Regions from separate parts of the Homo sapiens genome. Here all the other regions are linked to region 2. Evidence: fine-mapped expression QTL. A gene starts in region 2. Each other region holds a variant in brackets. All regions are shown on one strand. Distances are from middle to middle. Region 1 overlaps LYPLA1-TCEA1 (LYPLA1-TCEA1 readthrough). Region 2 holds the start of MRPL15 (mitochondrial ribosomal protein L15). Region 3 has its middle 26 kb from the start of MRPL15.

Region 1 (5,256 bases), 65 kb before region 2:
TGGAAACTCAAGAGACCCAGAATAACAACAACAACAAAAATCTTGAAAAAGAACAAAATTAGAGGACTCACACTTCTTAATCTCAAAAATTCCTACCAAGTAACATTCAGAAAGACTAGTACTAGAGTACAGACAGACATATAAATCAACCGAAAATCCAGAAATAAAACCTCACATTTACTGTCAAACTTATTTCTGAAACAAATCAACAGGGAAGGAATAGTCTTTTTAACAAAAGTAGCTGGGACAAGTGGATATCCACATGTAATACAAAGAAGTTGGACTGCTACCTCATACCATATGTAAACACTGACCAAATACCTAAATGTAAGAGATAAAACTATAAAACTAGAAGAAAACACACATACATCTTTGTGACCTCAGATCTGGCAATTTCTTAGATATAACATCAAAAGCACAACCGACAAGAAAAAAATAGATAAATTAGAAATCATCAAAATTAACTGTTGTGTTTCAAAGGACACTATGAAGAAAATGAAAAGACAACTTACATAGTGGGAAAAATGTTTGCAAATCACATCTAATTAAAGTGTCTAGTATCCATAATAAAAAAAACTTGCAACTCACAAACAAAAAGACAACCCAATTAAAAAATATGCAAAAGACTTGATGAGATGTTTGTCCAAAGAAGATATACAAATGGCCAAAAAGCACAGGAAAAGATGCTGAACATCATTAGTCATTAAGGAAACATAAATCAAAGCCCCAATGATACATCACTTCATACTCACTAGGATGGCTATCAATATAATGATGAAAGGAATAAATTCTGGTGTTCTGTAGCACTGTTGAGTGAATATGGTTAACTACAATTCAGTGTATATTTTCAAAATGCTAGAAGAAAGGGTGTTGAATGTTCACAATGCAAAGAAACGATAAATGTTTGAGGTGATGGATATGCTAATTACCCTGATTTGATTCTTACATGTTGTATACATGTATCAAAATATATCACTCAGTATCCCATAAATATGAACAATTATGTATCAACTAAAAGTAAAAGGAAAAGAAAAAATACTTTAAAAAAAACTTTGGCCAGGCATGGTGGCTCATGCCTGTAATCCCAGCACTTTGGGAGGCCAAGGCGGGCAGATCCCTTGAGTCCAGGAGTTCAAGACCTGCTTGGCCAACATGGTGAAACCCCGTCTCTACTAAATCTATGAAAATTAGCTGGGCGTGGTGCGCACCTGTAGTCCCAGCTACTCAGAAGCTGAGGCTGGAGAATCATTTGAACCTGGGAGGCAGAGATTGCAATGAGCTGAGATTGTGCCACTCCACTCCAGCCTGGGCGACAGAGTGAGACTCTGTCTCGTTTAAAAAAAAAAAAAAGGAATATACTAAATGTCATGAATTGTTCACATTAAAAGGGTTAGTTTTATGTCATGTGAATTTTACCTCGAATTAAACAAAAAAGACATCTCAATAAAAAAATAGGCAAAAGACTTGAATAGACATTTCTCAGACAAATGAATGGTTAATACACCATGAAAAGATGCTCAACATCATTAGTCATTAGAAAATGCAAACCAAAACCACTGTGAGATACCACTTCATACCTACCGGAATGGTTATCGTAAAAATGACAAATAATAGCCAAGTGTTAAAGGGTATGGTGAGAAATCAGAACCCTCATACACTGTTGGTAGAAATGTAAATGGTGCAGCGACTTTAGATAACCTTTAGGTTCTCAAAAGGATAAATATGAAGTTACCATATCCAGCAATTCTATTCCTAGGTCTATACCGAAGAATAGTGAAAAAATATGTCCAGTACAGATGTGGTGGCTCATGCCTGTAAACCCAGCTACTCGGGAGGCTGAGGCAGGAGAATTGCTGGAACCCGGGAGGCGGAAGTTGCGGTGAGCCGAGATCGTGCCACTGCAGTCCAGCCTGGGCAACAAGAGTGAAACTCCATCTCAAAACAAAAACAAAAACACAACAACAAAAAACTTGTACACAAATGTTCTTTTTTAGCAGTATTACGCAACTTCAAGGTGCAAACAACCCAAATGTCCATCAAATGATGGATGAATAAACAAAATGAGGCCAGGCGTGGTGGCTCATACGGTAATCCCAGCACTTTGGGGAGGCCAAGGCTGGCAGATCACCTGAGGTCAGGGGTTCGAGACCAGCCTGGTCAACATGGTGAAACCTGTCTCTACTAAAAATACAAAAATTAGCCAGGCTTGATGGCGCATGCCTGTAGTACCAGCGACTGGGGAGACTGAGGTAGAAGAATCACTCAAACCCGGGAGGAGGAGGTTGCAGTGAGCTGAGATCACACCACTGTACTCCAGCCTGGGCGGCAGAGCGAGACTCCATCTCAAATAAAGAATAAAATAAAATAAAATGAGGCACAGCCATACAACGGAGTATGATTCAACAATGAGAAGGAAGTACTGACATGCTATAGCACGGATGAGCCTTGAAAACAATGTTAAGTGAAAGAAGCCAGTTACAATAGAACACAAATGAAAGAGTATAGGGTTTCTTTTTGAGGCAATGAAAATGTTCTAAAATTGACTGTGGTGATGGTTGCAAAACTTACGGTGAATACATCTAAAACCATCAAATTACACACTTTAAATGAGTGAATTGTGTGGTATATGAATTATATGTCAATAAAACTGGTACCAAAAATAAAGACGAAGAATGCATGACTGGACCCAGTCATGAGGAACCATTAGACAGACTCAAGTTGAAGAGTCACTCTGCAGAATATGCAGAACTGAAGGCTGTGGCTATATGCTTTAAAACTGCAAAGGAAATGAAAGAAGAACTGATAAACAGTTTCAGACTCAAGACATGACAGCTCAAATGAACACATACTCCTGGAAAGGATCTCAGGCCAGAAAGGAAACGGACACAGCTGAGAAAGCTGGCAAAACTTCAATGGAGTCTGTGGACTGGATATAGTGTTTAATCAATGCTCATCTCCTAATTTGGAGTGTTGTATGTTGGTTATGTACAAGTATCCTTGTGCATGGGAAATACACATGAGAGTATTTAGAGGTGATAGGAACATGTTTGCAGGTTTATCTCAAGAGTTAAAAAAAGACT[C/A]ATCTATATATACGTACATATATATACAGGGTGGGGGCGTGGACAAGCACACACAGGACTGAGTGCACACACAATGGAACACACGCAGTAAAAGATGAACCAAGGAAGCTCCATGACAGCGATATGAGATTTTTTTGTACAAAAAGCACACATTTTATTTTAAAAGTGTGAGTTACAATTGCCACAAAAAGAATAAAATACCTAGGAATACAGCTAACCAGGGAGGTGAAAGATCTCTACAACAAGAATTACAAAACGCTGCTCAAAGAAATCAGAGATGACACAAACAAGTGGAAATGCATTCCATGCTCATGGATAGGAAGAATCAATACTGTTAAATGGCCATACTGCCCAAAGCAATCTACAGATTCAATGCTATTCCTATCAAACTACCAATGACATTCTTCACGGAATTAGGAAAAAATGTTTTAAAATTCACATGGAACCAAAAAAAGAGCCCAAACAGACAAGGCAATCCTAAGCAAAAAGAACAAAGCTGGAGGCATCATGTTACTGGACTTCAAACTATGCTACAGGGGTACAATAACCAAAACAGCATGGTACTGGTACAAAAACAGACACATAGACCAATCAAACAGAATAGACAGCACAGAAGTAAGGTCACACACCTACAACTATTTGATACTCAACAAAGCTGACAAAAACAAGCAATGGGAAAAAGGACTCCCCAGTCAATAAAAAGTGCCAGGATAACTGGGTGACCATATGCAGATGATAGAAACTGGACCCCCACCTAACACCACATACAAAAATCAACTCAAGATGGATTCAAGACTTAAATGTAAAACCCCTAACTATAAAAACTCGAAAGACAACCTAGGAAATACCATTTTAGACATAGGACTTGTCTAAGATTTCATGGTGAAGACGCCAAAAGCAACTGCAACAAAAACAAAAATTGACAAATGAGATCTAATTAAACTAAGGAGCTATTGCACAGCAAAAGAAACTATCAACAGAGTAAACAAACATCCTGCAGATGGAAGAAAATATATGCAAACTGCGCACCCAACAAAGGTCTAATATCCAGAATCTATAAGGAACTTAAATTTACAAGTAAAAAACAAACCACCTAGCTGTTCTGTGGTGTAGCCATTCTTTTATTCCTTTACTTTCTTAATAAACTTGCTTCCACTTTACTGTTAAAAAAAAAAAAATCAAACAACCCCATTGAAAAGTAGACAAAAAACATGAACAGACACTTTTCAAAAGACAGGCTGGGCGTGGTCGTGGCTCATGCCTGTAATCCCAGCACTTTGGGTAGCGGAGGCGGGCGGATCACTTGAGGTCAGGAGTTCGAGACCAACCTAGCCAACATAGTGAAACCCTACCTCTACTAAAAATACAAAAAATTAGCCAGGCGTGGTGGTGCGTGCCTGTAGTCCCAGCTACTCAGGAGGCTGAGGCAGGAGAATTGCTTGAACACTCCAGCTTGGCGACAGAGCAAGACTGAATCAAAAAAAAAAAAAAAAAAGACATACATGTGGCCAACAAGCATATGAAAACATGCTCAAGATCATTAATGATTAGAGAAATGCAAATCAAAACCACAACAAAATACCATCTCACAGCAGGCAGAATGGCTATCATCAAAAAGTCAAAAAAGGTCGTTAAGGGTTGGGCCATCAGGAACTTGCGCGTCCATCTCAGGGAGACCTGGCCTTCAGAGATGACAGCATTCAGCCCCAGGAGGAGCCTGCAATTCATCCTCGGTCTTCCCAACTTGTGCCGCCCAGGGAGATACAGGACAGTAAGGAACTAAACAGAACCTGCTGTCTGAATGGGGGAACCTGCATGCTGGGGTCCTTCTGTGCCTGCCCCCTCTCCTTCTATGGACGGAACTGTGAGCATGATGTGTGCAAAGAGAACTGTGGGTCTGTGCCCCATGACACCTGGCTGCCCAAGAAGTGTTCCATTTGTAAATGCTGGCACGGCCAGCTCCGCTGCTTTCCTCAGCCATTTATCTACCTGGCTGTGATGGCCTTGTGATGTATGGCATCTCATAGCTTCCAGGACTCCAGAACTACCAGCATCTACACTGCCACTTCTATGCCAGCTGGCATCTGCTTTTCTATACAAAGTTACTATTAATCGACACTGACCTATTTACAGAAGTATAATTTTAGATATCATGCAAATTTCATGACCAGTAAAG
Region 2 (5,162 bases):
ATTTTCTTCCCAAAGGTAGGAAAGTTTAATAAAAACACAATGAAAACTACTGAATTAAAAATCACTAAAGGCAGGCTGGACTCAGTGGCTCACACCTGTAATCCCAGCACTTTGGGAGGCCAAGGCAGGTGGATCATTTGAGGTTAGGAGTTTCAGACAAGCCTGGCCAACGTGGTGAAACCCAGTCTCTACTAAAAAACCAACCAAACAAACAAACTAAAAAAGCTGTACGTTGTGGTGCATGCCTGTAATCTCAGCTACTGGGGAGGCTGAGGCAGGAGAATCGCTTGAACCTGGGTGAGGAGCCTGCAGTGAGCCGAGATGGCGCTACTGCACTCCAGCCTGGGCGACAGAGTGAGATTCCATTTCAAACAAACAAACCAAAAATCATTAAAGGCAGAAAATAGGTTCTATTGCCCCCCACACCCCATTCTATTTCTTCTGTGCTTCTAAATAGAGTCTAGACTTTACCATCATATCATTTTATCGAACTCACATATTTTGTTTTTGCTAATTAGTCTACAAGAGGCCTACTTTTATCTTTAACTTTTAAAAAACATTCACGGGCCAGGCGCCGTGGCTCACGCCTGTAATCCCAGCACTTTGGGAGGCCGAGGCAGGGGGATCACCTGAGGCCAGGAGTTGGAGACCAGCCTGGCCAACATGGCGAAAACCCGTCTCTACTAAACATACAAAAAAAAATTAGCGGGGCGTGCTGGTGAACGCCTGTAATCCCAGCTACTCAGGAGGCGGAGGCGGAAGAATTGCTTGAACCAGAGAGGCAGAGGTTGCAGTGAGCTGAGATTGAACCATTGCACTCTAGCCTAAGCAACAGAGCGAGACTCTGTCTCAAAATAATAATAATAATAATTCACTTTTGGAAACTGTTCCCTACTAGATTTCAAACAACTTGGGAATGAAATCCTATTTGAGTTCATCCATGTGTATTTCCAACAAGTTCAGTGTCTTACTTATAAATAGTACTTGAAGGAATGAATACAACTTTTTCTTTATGTAGTTATTTTACACTTGATTTAAAGGAACTTTAAAAAGACGCAGTTATACCTAGAGACAGACGCCCTCCAAAAATTGTCTCACCTTCATTATTTGTGATTACTAGTTAGAGCTAGCAGAAAAAACTCCCCAGCAAGTGAAATGTCAAACCACTACTAAAAGAAAGAAAAAGAAAGGAACAGTCTTTTCTATATTTAAGTCACTTGAGAGAAAAAAGAAGAGCTGGTATTTTTCGAGTAATAATGTTCGTATTTTGTGATGCAGATACTCAATTTTACATTCTAAAAATACTACTTTTATAGTAGGAAGCAGTGTACGTTTGAATCCTGGCTCTGCCGCTTGTTGCAAGAAGTTGGTCAAGCTATCGGACCTTGCTAAGCCTTCCCTGTTGTAACTGTAAAATGTAGTAACACCATTTACCTCTAGAATGGCTGTAAATCGAGTAAGGCTTATTTAATACAGCGTCTGGCATACACCAGGCATTCAGTATGGCGCCAGTCATTAACAATAGGTGGTTACTAACTGCGATTCACTCAAAACAATACAGATGCACACGGATGAGAGTTCACACTTTGAGTCTTATTCAAAGATTGGTTATTAGCCAGGCATTTTGATAGGTGCACTCAGTTTTATTTTCGTACCTCACGGTGTATAATTACGCAAGCTCAAAAGCTAATAATTGACAGCTCACTTTGCTTTACTCTGGGTTCTGCATTGACCTCAGAGAAGACACGGCCTAGACAAACAGGCAAGGCCCAACACTGACTCAAAAAAGATCCTTTATTTAACGCAGTGTTTTTAGTGCATGCTCTCGTTTGGCGAAAGAGAAGGTTTTACGTTCAGAATATTAAAAGGGACCCCGAGGACAAAGCAGGATCTCGGAAAATAAGATCACATCCCCAAACAACTAAAAGGACAACCGAGACAAGGTTGCAGACTCCCACGCCTCTGCCCGACTCCCGGGCTTGCGCGCGCGGCTGCAGCGCGACAGGGGCGGGGCCACGGCCACAAAGCAGCCCCCGAGACCACGTGGCCTCCGAGCAGCTCAGGGCGCCCTTGAAAGTTCTTGGATCTGCGGGTTATGGCCGGTCCCTTGCAGGGCGGTGGGGCCCGGGCCCTGGACCTACTCCGGGGCCTGCCGCGTGTGAGCCTGGCCAACTTAAAGCCGAATCCCGGCTCCAAGAAACCGGTAAATGGGTGGTGGCGGTGCGGGGAAGCGCTGGGGACCCGGGCGATGAAAGCGGCCCTTCTCTCCCTGTCATTAGGAGAACTGCCCTTTCTAGGAGAGTGTTGGGATGAAAATAGGATTGCCTCATGCCTGTTCTCCCTTACTGCCCAGAGGGGAATCTTTCCACGTGCACCCAGTTCTTTTTTTTTTTTTTTTTTTTTTTTCCGAGACGGAGGCTTGCTCTGTCGCCCAGAAGCAATTCTCCTGCCTCAGCCTCCCGATTAGCTGGGATTACAGGCGCCCGCCATCACGCCCGGCTAATTTTTGTATTTTTAGTAGAGACGTGGTTTCACCGTGTTGGCCAGGCTGGTTTTGAACTCCTGAGCTCGCGATCCGCCTGCCTCGGCCTCCCAAAGTGCTGGGATTACAGGCGTGAGCCACCGCCCCCGGCCGCACCCAGTTCTTAATAAGGTTATGTTTACAAGTGTAAAGATACCAGGCGGAGAAGCCGACTCGCTGAAACTACAAAGTCTTTGTGTCATTCAAAATTGGATTTAAAATGAAATGTTTTCCCGGTGTATCTTTATGTTCATTGGAAAGATCTGAATTGCAGCTGTCCCTTCTGCAGTTGACTAAATAGAGCTAGAAAAGCTGTTAGTTGACAATGTACTGTCATTTTAACAGTCAGTTCATTGCTTTCGTGAAATGACAGGAAATTAAGGAAAAGATTTTCTTCAACAGATCAGTTTTCAAATAAAATTACAGGTTTATGAATAACATTTGCATATTTACAATTAATTTCAGAATAAATTCTTGCCTATCATTTAAAATGTTGTGAATATTTAATTCTAGGATTTTTTTCGGTTTCAACCTATTATAAAAACCTTATCCCCATCCTAACCTTTACTTTTTGCTTTTGAAACACACTTGGACTTTGGTTACAAGAATTAGCTATGTCTTTAGAGGCAAAGATGCTAACAGAGTGTGTGGAGCTTTGAGCAACTAGGACATGCTTGACACAATAGTGTTAGCTAGCACTGGTGGGCTGGATGAATGAACAGCATAACAAAAAGTGAAGAGCTGAAATGCAGTTTTTAGAAATGCATCTGAAATTCATAAAATTCTTTTTTTTCCTTGCAGGAGAGAAGACCAAGAGGTCGGAGAAGAGGTAGAAAATGTGGCAGAGGCCATAAAGGAGAAAGGCAAAGAGGAACCCGGCCCCGCTTGGGCTTTGAGGGAGGCCAGACTCCATTTTACATCCGAATCCCAAAATACGGGTTTAACGAAGGACATAGGTAAGGTTGCTTTGCTTTTTAAAGTACAGGTCCCCAATTTCCATTAAAAAGCACCTAAAAATAGTTTGGTAGAAATTTTGGTGGAAATTGTAAATTCACTTTGAAGCAAACTTTTGCTACTGTTCCCCTGAACCATTTTTTGGTAATGAAATCTTGCCTGGATTATTAAAAGGAAAAGAGGCCCAGACACTGCACTTAGACCTGCAAAATGGAGATTCTAATGCCAGCTCTAATGGTTATTAAAAGAGTGAGCAATAATAGACAGTATACATAAAAATCTGGCCCACTGTAGTCACCTAATAAATGATAACTACCATTATTACTTTGAGCTCCATAGTAAGTTAAATTTTCCACAGATTTATTTGTGTAAATAAGTGAAGTAAATGCTTAGAGAGGGAAATAATTTTTAGTGGAACAAAGGTGGTACAGGTTTGTTTTCATTACCCAAAATCAAGCAGTATTACATGTTTGTGTTACACTCAAGAGGGTTTTGTTTAGTTAAATAAAATTGGTGGAGGAAAACACAAGACAAAGCTTTGAGTTGATTTCGAGAAGTTACAGGAAGATGAGAGTTTTCCAACTCTTACATTCTTGTTTTACAGTTTCAGACGCCAGTATAAGCCTTTGAGTCTCAATAGACTGCAGTATCTTATTGATTTGGGTCGTGTTGATCCTAGTCAACCTATTGACTTAACCCAGCTTGTCAATGGGAGAGGTGTGACCATCCAGCCACTTAAAAGGGATTATGGTGTCCAGCTGGTTGAGGAGGTAAGTCTTGATTAGATCTTTTGGTGTTATATAGGAGGATTTTTTTTTTAGACAGAGTCTTGCCCTGTTGCCTGAGCTGGAGTACAGTGGCGCAATCTCGGCTCCTGCAACCTCCACCTCACAAGTTCAAGTGATTCTCCTGCCTCAGCCTCCTGAATAGCTGGGATTACAGGCACCCACCACCATGCCCAGCTAATTTTATTTGTTTTTAGTAGAGACAGGGTTTCACTATGTTGGCCAGGCTGATCTTGAACTCCTGACCTTAAGTGATCTGCTCACCTCGGCCTCCCAAAGTGCTGGAATTACAGGTGTGAGCCACCATGCCTGGCCCGTAGGAGATATTTTTGATTTCCAGATAATCAGTACTCTACCCCCTTTATTTTTAGCCCATTTGTGTTTATAACTGTTATGTAGTGGTGATAGCTGTGGTTTTGGAAAGCTGTCATACTATCATGGCAGGGCTCTGTCCCTTGGTCCTGGAATGCTGCTCTTCTGCATATCTGTAAAGCTTGCCTTCTTTTTTTTTTGTTTTTGTTTTTGAGATGGAGTCTCGCTCTGTTGCCCAGGCTGGAGTGCAGTGGCACGATCTCGGCTCACTGCAACCTCTGCCTCCTGGGTTCAAGAAATTCTCCTGCCTCAGCCTCCTGAGTAGCTGGGACTATAGTCGTGCGCCACCACACCCGGCTAATTTTTTATATTTTTAGTAGAGATGGAGTTTCGCCATATTGGCCAAGCTGGTCTTGAACACCTGACCTCGTGATCCACCCACCTTGGCCTCCCAAAGTGCTGGGATTACAGGCGTGAGCCACCGCCCACGGCGCCCCCTTCTTTTGGTTCTCTGCTTGAATGTCAACATATCAGGAAGATCTTTTTTTTTTTTTTTTTTTTTTTTTTTTAAATAGAGATGGAGTCTCACT
Region 3 (5,256 bases), 26 kb after region 2:
AGCATTGCGTTACAGAGATCTCAAAGACCTTTTTGGAACAAAAAAGCAAAGAAAGGCTGTAGGAAACAAGGTAAAAGACATTTCATCTTCACAGAAGTTTTTTAAACCTTGGGGTGAAATTCATATACCATAAAGTTGACAACTGAAAACAATTCAGCAGAATGTCATACATTCTCAGTGTTGTGCAACCACCTCCTCCATCTAGTTCCAAAGCATTTCATCACACCAAAAGGAAACTAATAGCCATTAAGCAGTCTGTATTCATCTCTCCCTGCCTCCAGCCCCTGGGAACTACTAATCTGCTTTCTTTCTCTTTTTTTTTTTTTTTGGAGACGGAGTTTCACTCTTGTCACCCAGGCTGGAGTGCAATGGCGTGATCTCAGCTCGCCGCAACCTCTGCCTCCTGGGTTCAAGCAATTCTCCTGCCTCCTGCCTCAGCCTCCCAAGTAGCTGGGATTACAGGTGCCTGCCACCACGCCCAGCTAATTTTTGTATTATTAGTAAAGATGGGGTTTCACCATGTTGGCCAATTTGGTCTCGAACTCCTGACCTCAGATGATCCACCCGCCTCAGCCTCCCAAAGTGCTAGGATTACAGGCATGAGCCACCACTCCCAGCCTATTAATCTGCTTTCTATCTCTACAGAATTATCTATTTTGGATATGTTATGTAAATGAAATCATACACTATGTGGTCTTTTGTGTCTGGCTTCCTTCACTTAATATATTTTCAAGGTTCATCCAATGTTGTAGCATGAACCAGTACTTCATTCCTTTTGATGGCTAAATAATATTCCATTGCATGTATATATGACAACTGTTTATCCACTCATTTGTTGATGAACATTTGGCCTGTTTCTACCTTTGAGTTATTGTGAATAAAGCTGCTGTGCACATTAGAGTGCAAGAAATGAGTCCCCGGTTTCAGTTATCTAGGGTATATGCTGGGGAATGGAATTACATGGTGATATGGTTTGGCTGTGTCCCCACCAAAATCTCAACTTGAATTTTATCTCCCAGAATTCCCATGCATTGTGGGAGGAACCTAGGGGGAGGTAATTGAATCATGGGGACCAGTCTTTCCCACGATATTCTCATTATAGTGAATAAGTCTCACACGATCTGATGGGTTTATCAGGGGTTTCCGCTTTTGTTTCTTCCTCATTTTTCTCTTGTGGCTGCCATGTAAAAAGTGCCTTTCACCTCCTGCCATGATTCTGCGGCCTCCCCAGCCATGTGGAACTATTAAGTCCAATTAAACCTGTTTTTCTTCTCAGTCTTGGGTATGTCTTTATTAGCAGCGTGAAAATGGACTAATATAGTAAATTGGTACGAGTAGAGTGGGGCGTTGCTGAAAAGATACCTGAAAACGTGGAAGTGACCTTGGAACTGGGTAACAGGGAGAGATTGGAACAGTTTGGAGAGTTCAAAAGAGGATAGGAAAATGTGGGAAAGTTTGGAACCTCCTAGAGACTTGTTGAATGGCTTTGACAAAAATGCTGATAGTGATATGAACAATAAAGTCCGGGCTGAGGTTGTCTCATGGAGATGAGGAACTTGTTGGGAACTGGAGCAAAGGTGACTCTTGTTATGTTTTAGCAAAGAGACTGGCAGCATTTTGCCCCTGCCTGAGAGAATTGTGGAACTTTGAACTTGAAAGAGATAATTTAGGGTATCAGGCAGAAGAAATTTCTAAGCAGCAAAGCATTCAAAAGATACCTTGGGTACTGTTAAAAGCATTCCATTTTAAAAGGGAAACAGAACATAAAAGTTCAGAAAATTTGCAGCCTGATGATGAAGTAGAAAAGAAAAACCCATTTTTTGAGGATAAATTCAAGCCAGCTGCAGAAATTTGCATATGTAGCAAGGAGTCTAATGTTAATCTCCAAGACCATGGGGAAAATGTCTCCGGGCCATGTCAGAGACCTTCATGGCAGCCCCTCCCATCACAGGCTGGAGGCCAGGAGGAAAAAGAGGTTTCGTGGGCCAGGCCCAGCATCCCCGTGCTTTGTGCAGCCTAGGGACTTGGTGCCCTGTGTCCCAGTCGCTCCAGCTGTGACTGAAAGGGGCCAACGTAGAGCTCGGGCTGTGGCTTCAGAGGGTGGAAGCTCTAAGCCTTGGCAGCTTCCACGTGGTGTTGAGCCTACAGGTGCACAGAAGTCAAGAACTGAGGTTTGGGAACCTCTGCCTAGATTTCAGAAGATGTTTGGAAATGCCTGGATGCCCAGGCAAAAGTTTGCTGCAGGAGTGGGGCCCTTATGGAGAACCTCTGCTGGAGCAGTGCAGAAGGAAAATGTGGGATCGGAGCCCCGACAGAGAGTCCATACTGGGGCACTGCCTAGTGGAACTGTGAGAAGACAGCCACCGTCCTCCAGACCCCAGAATGGTAGATCCACCAACAGCTTGCACCATGTGCCTGGAAAAGATGCAGGTACTCAATGCCAGCCCATGAAGGCAGCCAGGAGGGAGGCTGTACCCTGCAAAGCCACAGGGAGGGAGCTGTCCAAGACCATGGGAACCCACCTCTTGCATCAGCGTGACCTGGATGCGAGACCTGGAGTCAAAGGAGATCATTTTGGAGCTTTAAAATGTGACTGCCCTGCTGGATTTCAGACTTGCATGGGCCCTGTAACCCCTTTGTTTTGGCCCATTTCTCCCATTTGGAATGGCTGTATTTACCCAATACCTGTACCCCCATTGTATCTAGGAAGTAACTAGCTTGCTTCTGATTTTACAGGCTCATAGGCGGAAGGGACTTGCCTTGTCTCAGATGAGACTTTGGGCTGTGGACTTTCGGGTTAATGCTGAAATAAGACTTTGGGGGACTGTTGGGAAGGTATGATTGGTTTTGAAATGTGAGGACATAAGATTTGGAGGGGCCAAGGGTGGAATGATATGGTTTGGCGGTGTCCCCACCAAAATCTCAATTTGAATTGTATCTCCCAGAATTCCCACGTATTGTGGGAGGGCACCAGAGGGAGGTAATTGAATCATGGGGGCCGGTCTTTCCCATGCTATTCTCGTGGTGGTGAATAAGTCTCACAAGATCTGACGGGTTTATCAGGGGTTTCCGCTTTTGCTTCTTCCTCATTTTTCTCTTGCCCCTTGCCACGCAAGAAGTGCCTTTTGCCTCCCACCATAATTCTGAGGCCTCCCCA[A/G]CCATGTGGAACTGTAAGTCCAATTAAACCTCTTTTTCTTCCCAGTCTCAGGTATGTCTTTATCAGCAGTGTGAAAACGGACTAATACACATGGTAATTCCATGTTTAACTTTTTGAGGAACAGCCAAACTGTTCTCCACAGTGGCTGCACCATTTTACATTCCTGCCAGCCGCTCATGAAGCTTCCAATTTTTCCATATCTTTGCCAAGATTTATTATTGTCTGTCTTTTTGATTGTAGCCTTTCTAGTGGGTGTGGAGTGGTATTTCATTGTGGTTTTGATTTGCATTTCCCTAGTAATTAACGGTATTGATAATCACTTTCATGAACTTATTTGCCACTTGTATGTTTTCTTTGGATAAATGTCTTTTCCGGTCCTTTGCCTATTTTAAAATGGTACCATTTGTCTTTTTATTGAATTATAATAATATTTATGTATTCTGGATACTAGATCCTTATTATATATATTATTTGCAAATATTTTCTCTCATTCTGTGTATTGTCTTTTCACTTTCTTGACAGTGTCTTTTAATAAACAAAAGTTTTTAATTTCAATGAAGTCTAAATTATCTATTTTTTCTTTTTTTTTTTTGCCTGTGGTTTTGTTGTCACATCTAAGTTATGATTACCTAATGCTAAGTCATGCAGATTTACTCCTAGGTCTTAAAATTCTCTGTTTTCTAGCTTTAGCTTTTCATTTGAGCATTTAATACTTTTGAGTTAATGTTTGTATGTGATGTGAGGCAAGAGTCCAACTTTATTCTTTTGCATGTGGTATCAAGTTGTCCCAGCAACATTTACTGAAAAGAAATATTCTGTTCCCATTGAATTGTCTTGTATCTTTGTAGAAAATCAGTTGGCCATAAGTGCCATTGAGCTATATATGTCTAACTTTATACACTTGATACATAAAGTCTTATACAGTCTTGATTACTGTAGTTTTGTAGTAAGTTTTGAAAATAAGAAATCCTAGCCTTATTCTTCTTTTTCAAGATGGTTTTGACTCCTCTGGGCCCCTTGAATTTCCATACAAATTTGAGAATCACCTTGCCAATTTCTGCAAAAATGGCAGCTTGCATTTTGATAAATGCAAGCTTTAAATTTGTAGATCAATTCAGAGAATATGGCTATTTTAACAATACTAAGTCTTCTAGCCAGACATGGTGGCTCACTTCTGTAATTCCAGCACTTTGGGAGACCAAAGTGGGAGGATCACTTAAGCCCAGGGGTTTGGGACCAGCCTAGGCAACATAGTGAAACTCCATCTTTACAAAAAAGTAAAAAATAAAAAATTAGCTGGTGGAACATGCCTATAGTCTCAGGTACCTGAGGGACAGGCAGAGGCTAAGGTGAATCCCTTGAGCCCTGGAGGTTGAGGCTGCAGTGAGCCATGATTGTGCCACTGTACTCCACCTTGAGTGACAAAGTGAGACCATGTCTCAAAAAAAAAAGTCGTCTAATCCATGAACATGGGCTATCTCTTATCAGTATGTGTTTTTGTCTTTTATTCTATTAATTTGGTGTATTACATTGATAGATTTTCAGATATTAAACCAACCTTGTATACCTGGGATAAATTCCACTTGGTCATAGTATATAATCCTCTTTTATATGTTGCTGAATTTGGATTGCTTGTATTTTGTTGAGTTTTGCATGTATCATTTAAAATATATTTGTAGTTTTTTGTGATGTCTTTGGTATCAGTGTTATACTAGGCAAATAGAATGATTTCGAAGTGTTTCCTCCTCTTTTTTTTTTTGAAGAATTTTTGAAGAATTGGCATTAATTCTTTAAATATTTGGTAGAATTCACCAGTGAAGTCATCTGACCCTGGGCTATTCTTTGTGGGAAGTTTTTGATTAATAATTCTCTTGTTATACATCTTTTCAGATTTTCTATTCTTTTTTATTTCTCTTTTTTTCTGTGATTTTCTACTCTTCTTGAGTCTGTTTTTGTAGTTTGTGTCTGTCAAGTAATTTATCCATTTCAACTAGGTTATCTAATTGGTTGGCACACAATTTTTCACAGTGTTCTCTTTATTTTTATTATTTTATTTTATTTTTGAGACAGAAATGTGCTCTGTCACCCAGGCTGGAGTG

The links.
Region 1: its variant is fine-mapped to the expression of MRPL15 in whole blood (INTERVAL, PIP above 0.99).
Region 3: its variant is fine-mapped to the expression of MRPL15 in monocytes after LPS (Fairfax 2014, PIP 0.95).

The regions. Positions count from the first base shown.
Region 1 is chr8:54,068,378-54,073,633 of GRCh38, forward strand. The region is part of intron 2 of LYPLA1-TCEA1 (LYPLA1-TCEA1 readthrough); the gene reads right to left. All of the region lies in intron 2 of LYPLA1 (lysophospholipase 1), which reads right to left. It also overlaps the pseudogene CRIPTOP5. Among named protein-coding and RNA genes, the nearest start is that of LYPLA1, 31 kb to the right of the region's middle. RefSeq lists an enhancer at 2,840-2,939. The variant C/A (reference allele first, on the strand shown) is at 3,081.
Region 2 is chr8:54,133,189-54,138,350 of GRCh38, forward strand. MRPL15 (mitochondrial ribosomal protein L15) reads left to right here and starts at 2,053. Exons shown (of 5, transcript NM_014175.4): 1 at 2,053-2,203; 2 at 3,323-3,477; 3 at 4,080-4,245. The coding sequence starts at 2,096.
Region 3 is chr8:54,158,996-54,164,251 of GRCh38, forward strand. No RefSeq gene overlaps it. Among named protein-coding and RNA genes, the nearest start is that of MRPL15, 26 kb to the left of the region's middle. The variant A/G (reference allele first, on the strand shown) is at 3,158.